2 linked regions of the Homo sapiens genome follow. The protein of the gene in region 2 interacts with the protein of the main gene of each other region in a pairwise test. Each region holds a gene or a part of one and is shown on either strand. Other genes may lie near its edges.

Region 1 (7,293 bases), on a different chromosome or scaffold from region 2:
ACATTAGACTCAGTACATTGCACTTGGCCAAAGGGAAGTATTAACGAAACTCTTATCCATGTAAATAAGATCTTTAAAAAGCTATATTTAAAAAGAATCCTTGCAATTGGGTTTTAATGCTAATTAAACAGTTTGAATATATCAAGAAGTATTTGCTAATACCATAAAGCTTGTGGGAAATCCACTTAGAACAAAACAATTTCTAGAAAGTATTAAGAAATTTTGGAAATTAAGTATCACCCTTCTTTACAATTAAAATGTCATGTAGGAAATTTGAGATATTCCCAAAGGATGGGCGGTATTTTTATATTTAATTTAAAAACATTACCTATGAGCACATTCATGATTGGCTTTTATGTCCACTAGTGTCAATTCTACAGCTTGTATTCTTCTATTAAAGAAAGTGCACCTGAGTAAGTTAATGTTTGATATCTGAGGGGGGAAAAGCCTAAAAAGAATATTTAATAAAAGGTATTACTGAATAATATTTTCATATGAATAGCACTGCTGCTCTGGCAATTAAGAGAATTAAGGTTACCTGATTCCATAAAGGCCCAATGTCATAAAAGAGGATCTCCCTGGCTGAAGAGCTCTCCTTAATGTGAACACTAAGAGAAAGCAAGAAGAAATTACTCTAGCTTCTCTGACTTAAACAAAAGAACAAAAAATGGATGTGACTTGGAGTCAGAAGATCTGGGTTGGGGTCCTGGCTATATGATTCTGGAAAAACCACTAAACATCATCAGATCTAAGTTCTTCGTCTGTTAAACAGCTATAATTTCATCCGATAACCTAGTTGTAAGATTGTATAAAGGTAAAATAAGATGTACTTTAAGCTACTTTGTAGGGCACAAAGAACATCTAATCAGGGGTTTTCAGCCTCAGCACTGCTGCCATTTTGGGCTGGATCATTCTTTGTTGGAGAAGACTGCCTGGTACACATCAGGATGTTTAGCAGCATCCCTGGTCTCTGCCCACTAGATGCCAGTAGTACCTGACAGTTATAAACTATTATTCTTTCCTTATTTTTCCCTCCCCCATTATCTTGTATAGCGTGGGCTACGCTGCCATATATAAATTTATTCTTAATGCTTAGTCATAAGATTACACTGCCATCTGTCTAAATTTTCCTGATTCCCTCAAACATTTAAGGGAAGCACAGTTCAGCGGTATGTAAGTTTAAATGCTTCCACCTCTTTAAAGTACGTCCCTTATACACAGTACCTTTCCGCATGGAGGTAAACTGATCTCCATGTAAAATGATCTCTTTGTTAATTTCTGAAGCAGTCCAGATTCAATAAATAAAAATTACCATGTGAAAAATGGGTTAACTCTACTCTTTGAATAGCAATAGTAATGATGTTGTAAAATAAGAAACCACTTTGATAACCAGGGGAAAATTAATATAAGATAGTTTTATACAGACAAAATGGCACCTAAGAATAGTATAATTCATATTTTTGTATGCTAGTTTCTCACCAGGGGAGATGCTCAATAGGTCTGTTCATTTATTTAATAAATGTATTTATTAAACACTATGTTAATATGCTTAATATGTGAAGCACTGAGCCAGCAACTGCTGATACAATCAATAATAAGCAACAACAACAAAATAATGCACAAAGATATGGATTCTATCCTTACATAGTTTTCAGTTTAGTAGAGGAGAAAATAACCATTAGGTATTCAACTAGAATTATCAACACTGCTAAAAACACAATCACAGGCAAAGGACAGCATGCTGAAGAATTCATCCAACTCGCACTCATGAACGTGTGTGGAAAATATGTATTTCCTTATCAAGATTTTGGGTAAAGAGGTAGAGAAAAGCCTAAAGGGATAAATAAATGATAATTTTGATAATACATTAATCAATACTGAAGGTCAATATGCCATTTAAGTTTCTATTAAAAATGGTAACATATTCCTCTATGAAATGATCACCATAAGAAATAAAGCAGTTTACCAATTTTAGACACTAAAGTACCATGTGTAAGTTAGGTATAAAAACATGTAATTTATGAGATTCTCCTGATAATACACAAAAATCAGAATTGACCAACTATTTTACATGATTCTTTGGCAAGATACCCTGCAAAACAGCACATCTCATTTAGCTTTACTTTTTGTTTTCCAGGTTAAGGCAAAATGCTATTTAGCAACTCTCTTCTCTCAACTTCACATTCACTTGCTACCAACAGAAAGAGGTTAGGACAGAAAGTCTAGAGGGGACCCAAAAAGCAGTAACTGAGGAAGGAAAGGAGCCAAGGAAAATAACAAATTTTAATTAGTTGTTTCCTCTTTCTGTTGGGTGCAAAAAAGGTCTGGGTTTAGCTCATGTGCTCACTTAAAAGTAGAGAGGAAGTTGGTAGAATTCTGGGTTGGTGTTCTCCCTTCTCCAAAAAGGTTTACTTTCTCTTCTATTTTATCCTCACTTATTGTAGATCAGAGGTATCTTTTCAAGACTGCTTCAGAATAAATGTAGTTTTTCAATCTGTCTCCCTAATTACTGCATGCAAGGTATCCATTTTCATGTCTTGTAAAAATTGGAGCAAGAAGCATTTTACAAGTACCAGGGATCATTATTCCGGTTCCACAGCTATTAGACCAACTCAGGTGGTCTATGATACCTGATATGACGATCTCAGGGACATCCAGAATGTTGCCAAATGAAGCAGTTTTACGGTGGCCCCGTTTAGGCTTGGAATAGGCTGCAAAAACACATATATACAGTATACATGCAAACAACCACAAACAGTAACACGGAAAATGATTAACTACAAAAATAGACTCATTTTCAAATAGTTCATGTTAATAACATTTCATGCAGAATGGCATGCAGAACTACCTAACTTTTCATCCATGCTCAGAAAAGGCGAGATTAAAGAGCAAACAACTACCAAATACAAGATGTTTTACACACTGGTTTTAATTAGCAGAAAAAAATAAAAAGAACAGAGACAAAGCTGCAGGGTAATGAGGAAGCAAAATTTCAAATATATTCATAGAAACAGTCTACCTAAGTGAAATCACTGATCTGTGATGGGGGTGGGGGAACGAAGGAGGAGAGGAAGAAAGGCGTTAAAAAGTAAGTTGTCGTATTTGTTTTAATTACACAAACACAGGAATACATGTTCAAGTTAGGTGTTTCTTGAAGTGTGCTATAAAGTAAAATCCAATGATTAAATAATAATTATTGAATCAAAGTGTGAAATGTATATGCTTTTGTAGTCATACTTATACATATTTCTAGTACCAAATATTTATTATATTTTCCAAAGTTTAGGGTACATTCACAGTAAACACAAAGTCTGTCAAAAGGCTGGAAAGTATGACTCTTTCCAAGTAAGACAATTCATGAAAAAATTTAAATTGTGTAAAACTCAAGGGATGTACAATAGCATTTGTTCTACACTTAGGCAAAATTTTAATGTGTGTGGTTATCCTTCTAGCAAAGTCATTTCTGTAAATAATAATAAAAAACCAGTGCTTGACTAGAAATATGATACTAGCGAAGACATGAAACCATTATTATAACAATTTTCAGTTTTGAGACAGCAATTAGTATGTGGCAGATCTATCCTGAACAACATCCCTGAAGTGAAAAGGGTTCCTCAAAGCATGAGGGTATGTCCCGGTGAGTAGGGTTCATCTGACACTACAGTGAGACAACCCTGCTCCAAAGAAATACTTGTGACTCATGGAGACTCATGGGCTTGTCAGTGGCTGGTGACTTCTACTCAACTTGATAGTTTCTGAAGACCCATCTGTGGCAGACACAGCTATCTTCTGCCAGTTTCCACTCTTCCCTTCTGTTTTAGCAATAGTACTCTGATTTTATTTAGGACAGAAAAGTCATCAGATAAAAGAGGGCAGATCTCCTCTTCCCTTGGAGCTACGTGTAGCCATTCGACCATGTTACTTTGACCAATGATGTGTGGATGTTGTTAAGAGAGGCATCTGGGAATGTTCCTTCAAAGAACTTGGATGTCTATTTGCCCTGCCCCCATGTCTTCCTTCCTATTGCCTGGAATGTAGAAGTGATGAAATGGAACTTCAACAGCCATTTTGGAGCACAGGATAACTTTGAGAATGGAAGCTATACAGTAGGGATTACAGCACAGAAATAGGAGACCAGTTACTTCAAGATCACAGAGCCCACTACCTCCAGACTTGTTTATATGTGAAAAATAATGCTTATGTGTTATAGACACTGTTATTTCGGATATTCTGTTATATCTAATGGATTCTAATAGTAGCTGATAAAATCAATGATCATGATTAGTTGAAGACAAGTATAGTATGATGGTCCATCTTGACAACTTCTTTCTGAAAAGAGCTCCACACACAATGAGAATATTCTATTTAGAAAAAAACCAAATAAGTGAAAAAAAGACCTAAAAAATTGGTTAGCTAAGTTAAAAAAGATGCAAATACACATGAATATATACATTTATACACATACATAGTTAAAAGATGGGGTAAATACACAAAAATGTTAAGTGTTTATCTCTGAGTGGGGTAATTATGTAAGTTTTTTTGGCTTGTTTACATTTCCACATTTTCCACAACAGAAACGTGTTTACTTTTAAAATCAGCTCCCCCTGATCCCTGGAAAGAATCAGCAAAAAACCAAAAACGTCCAAATTAAACCAGCATTACTAAAATGAAACCTGGTCACAGAATTAGGTTGTCAGTTTACTTAAGTAACAAAACATGTAATTGTTTTTGTGCTGACCAGTTCTTCCATGATTAATAATTTTAAGAACTGAACAATGGAATTTAAATGCTAGCTTTTTCAAGATCTAATAAAATTATGATATTTTATTTTACAATTAAAAAAATTAACCACAACCAGCTTAGCTATTATTTTGTCACTGGAATGAAGAAGCAGATAGAAGGTCAAATCATACATGGATCTGGAATACATTTTTCTGTTAAATTTGAAACAAAATATTTGCTATTATTTGAGTTCAGCACAAAAATCTAGTAGTATCACTGAAAATCCCCAAAATATTCTGGTTTTGGCAGAATTTCAATTTCTCACTTAGACTTTCAACTCATGTTTGAGCAGAAAGAATTACATTTGATAAAATCTGTAAATGAGGAAGGCATACTTTCTCATCCAAATAATTTTACAAGTCATACCTTCCTTATTTGGAATTTGAGATAAATGCATAAACTATTGCTAGTAACTTAGAAAAATATATTGTAAACCTACTTCCTATTTAAAAAAAAATATAAGACACACACAAAAAACCTTTGACAACTGAAACTACCATGGCCAAAAAGGCTTATATACATTTTCACTCTTCAGACTTGTAGTTCCTTTTTACCTGTGGTTGCGGCGATCCTAGCTTCTATTTCAGACATGTCAGCACTCATCCTCTTGCCCTCAGAGGTTGGGGGCAAGCTCTCCACACTGCTCCCACGGGAGGCTCCCAAGCTTAAACGTCCAGATTCACTCTGTTAAAATTACAGGTCAATCTGAATTACTGAAGTTCTTTAGATTTAGCAATCTTAGGCAACCTAAAAGGAGGAAGATGGCAAATGGGATTCTGATAGATCCTGTTCTGCTCTGAAAGGAGAGGGAAGTTTGTACGAGAGGGAGCTACAGGGGTAAGGGAAAGCAAGCTGCAGATACTGTCTTTATGAAAAGGCAGTCACTAGAACTGGGAGCTAAAAGCCCCAATTATTCGTTAACCTAAATGCCTCAGGCAAAATGAATAAACTCACTCCTTGAAATATTTTTAAAAATCAACAATGGCAAAAATATAATAAATCTGAACAGCATGAAATGATAGACTTAGAACAACTCCTCTAACTGGGCAGCGCAGCCAAAATATACCCATTTTACATTTTTAACCATCAACCATTACATTTAGGGATTATTATAGATAGGGATTTAGAATTGGCAAAGGTAGCAATCATTAGAAGGAAAAACCATTTGGTAATAAATGGTAGGAGAATCTCATTACGTGTCTCTATTTGTAAGCTCTTTTGCATGTTTCAGGAAGAAAATTCAGGATTTATAAAATAGAAGATGGTAAATAATTAATTTCAGTTAGTATAATATTGTGACTACTGGTAAGGTTACCAGTTTTACTTGTAATAACATAACAAACCTGTTGCTTTGCCTGATTTTTCAACAATTTTGATTCTAAGCGCTTAATAGTATCATTTGTGGCAGGAACTTGCTCCATATTAGTGTCACTTTTGTTACTCGTATTTGTAGAAGCAATGTCCATGAATGAGCCTAGGAAAAGCAGAAACATTTATGACTAATGGCTGGAAATAATACAAATGCTTCACTTGGTATTATGTAACTTACATTCTTTTATAAACTAGCCAGGCAGGAACAGAAATAAAATAAGACTTTTCAAGCTAATGAAGATATCCAAACAAACCCATTTTAAGAGAAACTTAAGGATAGCACAAAAAAGGAACCAAGATGCCTAAATAGTCTTCTAATAGTCAAGAATAACTTAAGGTTTTTAACCTGAGCTAGTAGAAGAACTGAGGGCTATTAATTGAGATGCGGAAAGACTAAAGGAAGAGTGAGTTTGAAGGAAGTATCAGGAACTCAGTTTGGAAAATATTAAGTTTGAGTTTCTAGTAGATGTAAAGGAAATAGTTGGATATATGAGTATAGAGTTCAGGTATAAGATGGAAAACATTATGAGCCAACAGATGGTATATAAGGCCATAATAATGAATGAGGTTACCAAGGAAATGAGTGCAGACAGATAAGTGAAGAAGCCAAATGAGCAGGCCCTGGGCACTCCAACATTTCTAGGTTGGGGAGATGAGGAATAACCAGCAAAGAAAACTGAGAACAGACGGCCAGAGATGTAAGATGGAATCTAGGCTAGTATGGTATCTCGGAGGCCAACTGAAGAAAGTGCTGTCTGTAAGAAGGAGAAAGTAATGAATTAGGTCAAGTGCTACTGAGAGTCAAGATGAGAAATGAAAATGATTCCTTAAATGTAGTGATGTAGAGATAACTAGTGACCTTGACAAGAACAATTCTGAAGTACTGGCATAATACGTCTGAATGGAGTCAGCTCAAGAAAGAAGGGGAAAAGAGAAGCTAGTGAATGCAAATACAGACTACGTATGTTTTAGGAATGATCCAGTAGAAAGCTAAAACTGATGATGCAAGAGACAGGGGAGAATTGCTCAGAGGAGCAGATGGGATATAATGCACAGGCAGAAAGGTACACCTTTGGCCAGAAGTATGGATAGTTTAGCCAGAGTAACAGAAGAAAGCAGAGTAGATGGGCACAGATGTTG
Region 2 (4,608 bases):
TGGGCCGGATGGTGGAGGTGCTGCCCCTCCCCTCTCTGGAGTGGGGCTGGCCCTGGTACCCTGGGCGTTCGAGGGCTTGCCAAGTGCCCCCACACTGAGCCATCCCCCCATTCACAAGGAGGTGGCGGTGGCCTTCTGGGCCAGGGCTGAGCACCCCGACATCTCCCACAGGTCTCAGCGGTCTGTTCCTGAGGCATTTTCCGCCCCCCTGGAACTCTCGCAGCCACTTTCCGGCCTGGTGGATGGTAGTATCTCTCTTGTCCCCTTCCCCTACCCATCCCTGACAGTGGAGACGCCCCTAAGAGGTGCCCCAAGTCCAGCCTTCAGGGGCTTGTCATCCCAAACCACATCTGTTCAAGGGTGACTTCAGTTCCATCAGAGCCAGCTGCCCCCTACCACCCATGCCCTCTTTTCTCTCTTTAGACTATGGCATCCTCCCCAAGCACCCAAGGCCGCGAGGGCCTCGACCCCTCCTGTCTAGGGCCCAGCAGCGCAAGCGGGACGGGCCCGACCTTGCCGAGTATTACTATGATGCACACCTATGACCCAAGGCCCTCATAAAGATACCATGTGTGACAAAGGCTTGGCTTTCCTGGGCTGGGAGCGAGACGGGGACGGGAGGGGCCCATGCAGATACATCCACTGCAGTCCAGACAGGAAATGGCACTTTAATAGTTGGGGCCAGGGTGACAGGACCAAGATGGGGCTGGCCTGTGTCAGTCAGGAAGCCTCCCTCTTCTGCTGGGACAGGGCCTTGCGGCAGCTCCTCCTCCCCGCCTGAGGTCCTAGGCCTGCCACAGGCCAGCATGCCGGTGAGGTCAGTGGCAGGAGCCACCCAGAAGCCCCGCAGATGACGGAGCTGAGAACAGGGACTTCACCTCCACGTGTTGCCATTTCCTCACTGGAAAGTCCTTGGGAGGTGGCTGGGCTCAGCCTGAGCTCAGGGCTCTTCGGTGGGGGTTGGGGCAGGGGCAGGGCGGGCACTTGCAGGTGGCACAGGCTTCATCAAGGCAGGACACGGGCTTCATCAAGGCAGGAGCCACAGCGCCCGAGCCCTGGCAGGGGAGGTAAGGCCCAGGATGGGGCAGGGCCGTGTGCTCCTGGAACGGACATCCTTCTCTGCCAGAGACCTGCTCCCCAAGCCCTGTCCCTCCCAATCCCCAGGCAGCCCACTCTGCCCTCCATAGATGAATCTAATCCCATATATTACAATAAACTGCATTTGCCTCTCCCCATTGCCCCACCCTCCCCTACCCTGGGCCAGCGGCCCCCACTTCCTTGTCCTCTGGCGGTGGCAGGTGCCCCTCCTCAAGCAGTGCCACATCCTGTCAGCAGCCAGCTGTCCTGGCACTGGCCTGAGGGCTGGGGGACGCAGAGGGCGGGGCTGCACAGCTACTCCAGGTAGATATCTTCTGTGGGGCAGGTGTACTCCACAAACTGCTTGTAGAACTGCTGGAATGCTCTCCTAGAAGCCAGGGGACACACAGATGGCTCAGATCGCCACTGGCAAGGGAGGAACAGGATCCCGACCCAGGGTTTTCCCGCTGGAGCCTTGGGGCCCAAGTGCAGCTCTGGTTCCTCTGGCTGGGGCCACTTGGCTCTGTTCTCTACAGAATTGCCATCGCGTTTCCCAGTAAGATGTCAGTTGAAGACATGGCCCAACAGCTACCAAGCTTGGAAGCTGCTCCTCAGGCTCACCCTGCCGCGCCACCCTCCCTCCAGGCCACCCGCACTGGGGTCCGGAGATAGTTCTCCAGAGCTGCGGGGGAAACCGAGGGGCAAAGCTGAGCGCCAGGAAGCAGCCCCAGGGCCTGGGATTGGGCGTGCTCCCTCGGGCTGGGTGCTCAGCAGGGTGTACACGTACCCCACGGACTCTGCCAGGGCTTTGGTGGAGTCTTCAGACACAAAGACGTGGCAGGCAAACCGGTGGTCGGCGGGGTGCTTGGTGATGAACCCAAAGTACCTGCAGGGACAGGTCTGTCTGTGCTGGGACGGGGGCTCGGCCCACACCCACCCACCTCAAGGCTGCAGACCACCCGTGCCTCCTCCACTGCCATCCCACCCCCACTTACTTGTTGTTCTTTGGATGATATCCGCAGAAAGAGATGTTTTTTAACTGGAAAAAGTGGCTACATTTATTCCCCTACAGGAGGGAGAAAAGAAGCAAGAGGGCGGTCACCTGGCCTGCAGTGAGGGTGACAGGAGATGGCCTCTTCATCACAAGTCTTGGGGGAGAGCTTGGGGCCATGGAAGGAAGGGGCTGGGTTGGAAGAAGTCACCTTGGCCTCCTGGGAGTCATCGGCCTTGACGCCTATCTTCACACCCCGCACGCTGATCTCCAGGACACAGCTGGAGGGCGGGTTAAAGTGCACGGTGAGCCGGCGGGTGGTGGCAATCTACAGGTGACAAATGGAGCCACGTCAGCTGCTGTCTGTTCCTCTGCTGATCCCTCCTGTCCCAGGGCCTGAGCCCTTTACTGCCTCTAGACACCTGCGTCCCTCTGCCCCAGGGACCCATCCAAGGGAGGAGAAGGGAGAGGGCTCAGGTACCTTTTGCATAGCAGCACAGAGGACGTCATTGCCCTTGTGATAGGGAACCTGGACTGAGCCCAGGAACTTCACCCGGAACTGGTCCACCCAGTCACTGTTTTTGGCCAGGGCTGGAAAGCAAGCGTGAATTGAGGAGGGGCAGAAAGAGCAGGAGGGAGCTGAGCAGCCAAGTGAAGGAGGGTGGGTGAGGCACGGGGAATGGCAGAGCCCACAGAGGCTGCCACAATCCCTGGCTGCCCAACTTGGCCGGGCCTCACTTTGCTTGATCGTGAAAAGGACCTAAAATCACTTCCACTCAGCCCCCCACCTGGCTGGCTGAGATCTGGAGTACACGTTCACCTAGCAGCAAGTTGGGGCAGACAGATGTGGTGGCTGGGGGCACAGGCCAGGGAGGGAACACTACCTGCCATGTGCTCGGGCTCCTTGGTGACCTCGATGGCGTAATAGGCAGGAAAGACACCCCGGGCACCAGTGCGCATGTTGTAGGCCTCGTACCAGTAGTCTTCAGCCTGGAGCTCCACTAGCAGAGGGTCATCCACTTCCAGCTCAAGTTCGTCTTCGTGTCGAGGCACAAACCTGTCCCCAGCAAGGACAGGTGAGAAATTCGGCACCAAGGCCTGTCCAGCCAGGCCTACTCTGGGGTCTGGGAGCCACAGCAGCATCGTTATTTCAGTAAACATTTGCAAAAGCATCCTGTGTGCCTGTTGCAGTACTAACCCCAGGGGAGAGCAAGGTCAAGCAGACATGCATCTGCCATCGAGGAAACACAGGCCAAGGGAGGGTGTGGGCAGGGCCCCCTCTAAAATGGAGAGGCTGTGGGAAGCGCAGGCTTTTGTCTAGAGAAGGGTCAGGTGGGGTGTGGGCAGGCATCCTCCTGGTCACCCTCCTGGGTGCCCTGCCCCTGGCCAGACTAGGTGCACAGTTCTGGGATCCCTCACTGTAGCCATCCTCTTTGTCACCATACTCTGAGTCCCTAGAGAGTGGACACTGTCCTCCCAGGGCTGAGTGGATAAATGAAGGCTGATGGCAGGGGTTAGGCTGAGGCCATGTAGGGGTGACAAGTAGAGGGTGGTGTGTGGCCCAAACTGCTGCCTGGCTAGGCCCAGCCAGCCCATGGCTCTCACCTGAATATGGCCCGGTGGGTCTGCTCCTGCTCCTCCCCGTTGATGATGCAGGAGAACAGCCCGAAGGACTCAGCACCTGCAGGTGAGGTGGTGTGGCTGGATGGGGGGTCGCAGCTCTGATCCAGGTTTAGCGGGGCAGGTAGAAGCCTCAGTCCTAACCAGATGGGGCCTGGGGTCGCCTCCCAGAACACTTCGCATTTTGGCTCTGCCCCCGCTAGGGACCCCCCCACCCCACTGCTTCCCCTTGCTGACTCACTGGAGGAGCGGGAGCGGCCACTCATGAAGACGTTCAGGAATTTCTTGGAGAAATGGACGTCGGGTTCATCAGGCGTGGAGTCCTCGGAGAGGCAGGCAGGGGGCTGGGGCCGCGGGGCCTCCTCATATTCCTCTCCGATGGCCGACTCATAGGGCGAGGAGACGGAGGCACAGTTGTCATAGACGGTGGCAGAGTCACTCTCGTCACTGTAGTCTCCGAAGCACGGCCGCAGGCTCACCAGCTCCAGCTGTGCATGCTCATCTACCACCAGCGTGTACTTGACAGAGTCATAGGACAGGGCGCTGGTGTCCGAGCTCAGAGAGGCCCGTGGAGGTGGCGGCGGCTCCCCCAGGCTCCCCCGCCACCCTCCGCCTGGGGGCTCAGCCCGCTCTGGGGACGACAGGCAGTCGAAGCCCTCTTCCTCTTCACTGATGGAGGGGTGCGGCCGCCCTGCCGTGGAGGGGTAGGCGGCAGGGTCTGGATCGGAGCTGACTGACATCCGGCTCTCAGTGGGCGGCAGGAAGGCGGAGGTGGGCTCTGCAGCGTCTGGGGGCCTCTGCACTGGGGTCAGGTAGATCTCCTCAGTGGCCTCTAGTCGCACATCGGCCTGGTAGTGGATTCGGTCTCGATGCGAGTGGCCCCGACCCCCAGGCGGGGCAGCAGGGGGACCACCCGGAGG

What was found.
Region 1: the proteins of MAPK8IP1 (region 2) and MAP3K7 interact in binary tests that used the Homo sapiens proteins (3 or more experiments, as listed by UniProt).

Annotation. Positions count from the first base shown.
Region 1 is NC_000006.12:90,541,922-90,549,214, forward strand, and holds part of MAP3K7 (mitogen-activated protein kinase kinase kinase 7), read right to left. Parts: intron 6,257-7,293; coding exon 6,126-6,256; intron 5,467-6,125; coding exon 5,337-5,466; intron 2,712-5,336; coding exon 2,631-2,711; intron 1-2,630. UniProt on the Homo sapiens protein: Serine/threonine kinase which acts as an essential component of the MAP kinase signal transduction pathway. Plays an important role in the cascades of cellular responses evoked by changes in the environment.
Region 2 is NC_000011.10:45,902,506-45,907,113, reverse strand, and holds the end of MAPK8IP1 (C-Jun-amino-terminal kinase-interacting protein 1), read right to left. Parts: coding exon 3,930-4,608; intron 3,750-3,929; coding exon 3,674-3,749; intron 3,126-3,673; coding exon 2,953-3,125; intron 2,660-2,952; coding exon 2,550-2,659; intron 2,397-2,549; coding exon 2,280-2,396; intron 2,144-2,279; coding exon 2,073-2,143; intron 1,964-2,072; coding exon 1,865-1,963; intron 1,466-1,864; coding exon 1,393-1,465; 3' UTR 649-1,392; downstream 1-648. Other genes in the region: FREY1 (protein Frey 1), read left to right, coding at 172-245, 424-545. UniProt on the Homo sapiens protein: The JNK-interacting protein (JIP) group of scaffold proteins selectively mediates JNK signaling by aggregating specific components of the MAPK cascade to form a functional JNK signaling module. Required for JNK activation in response to excitotoxic stress.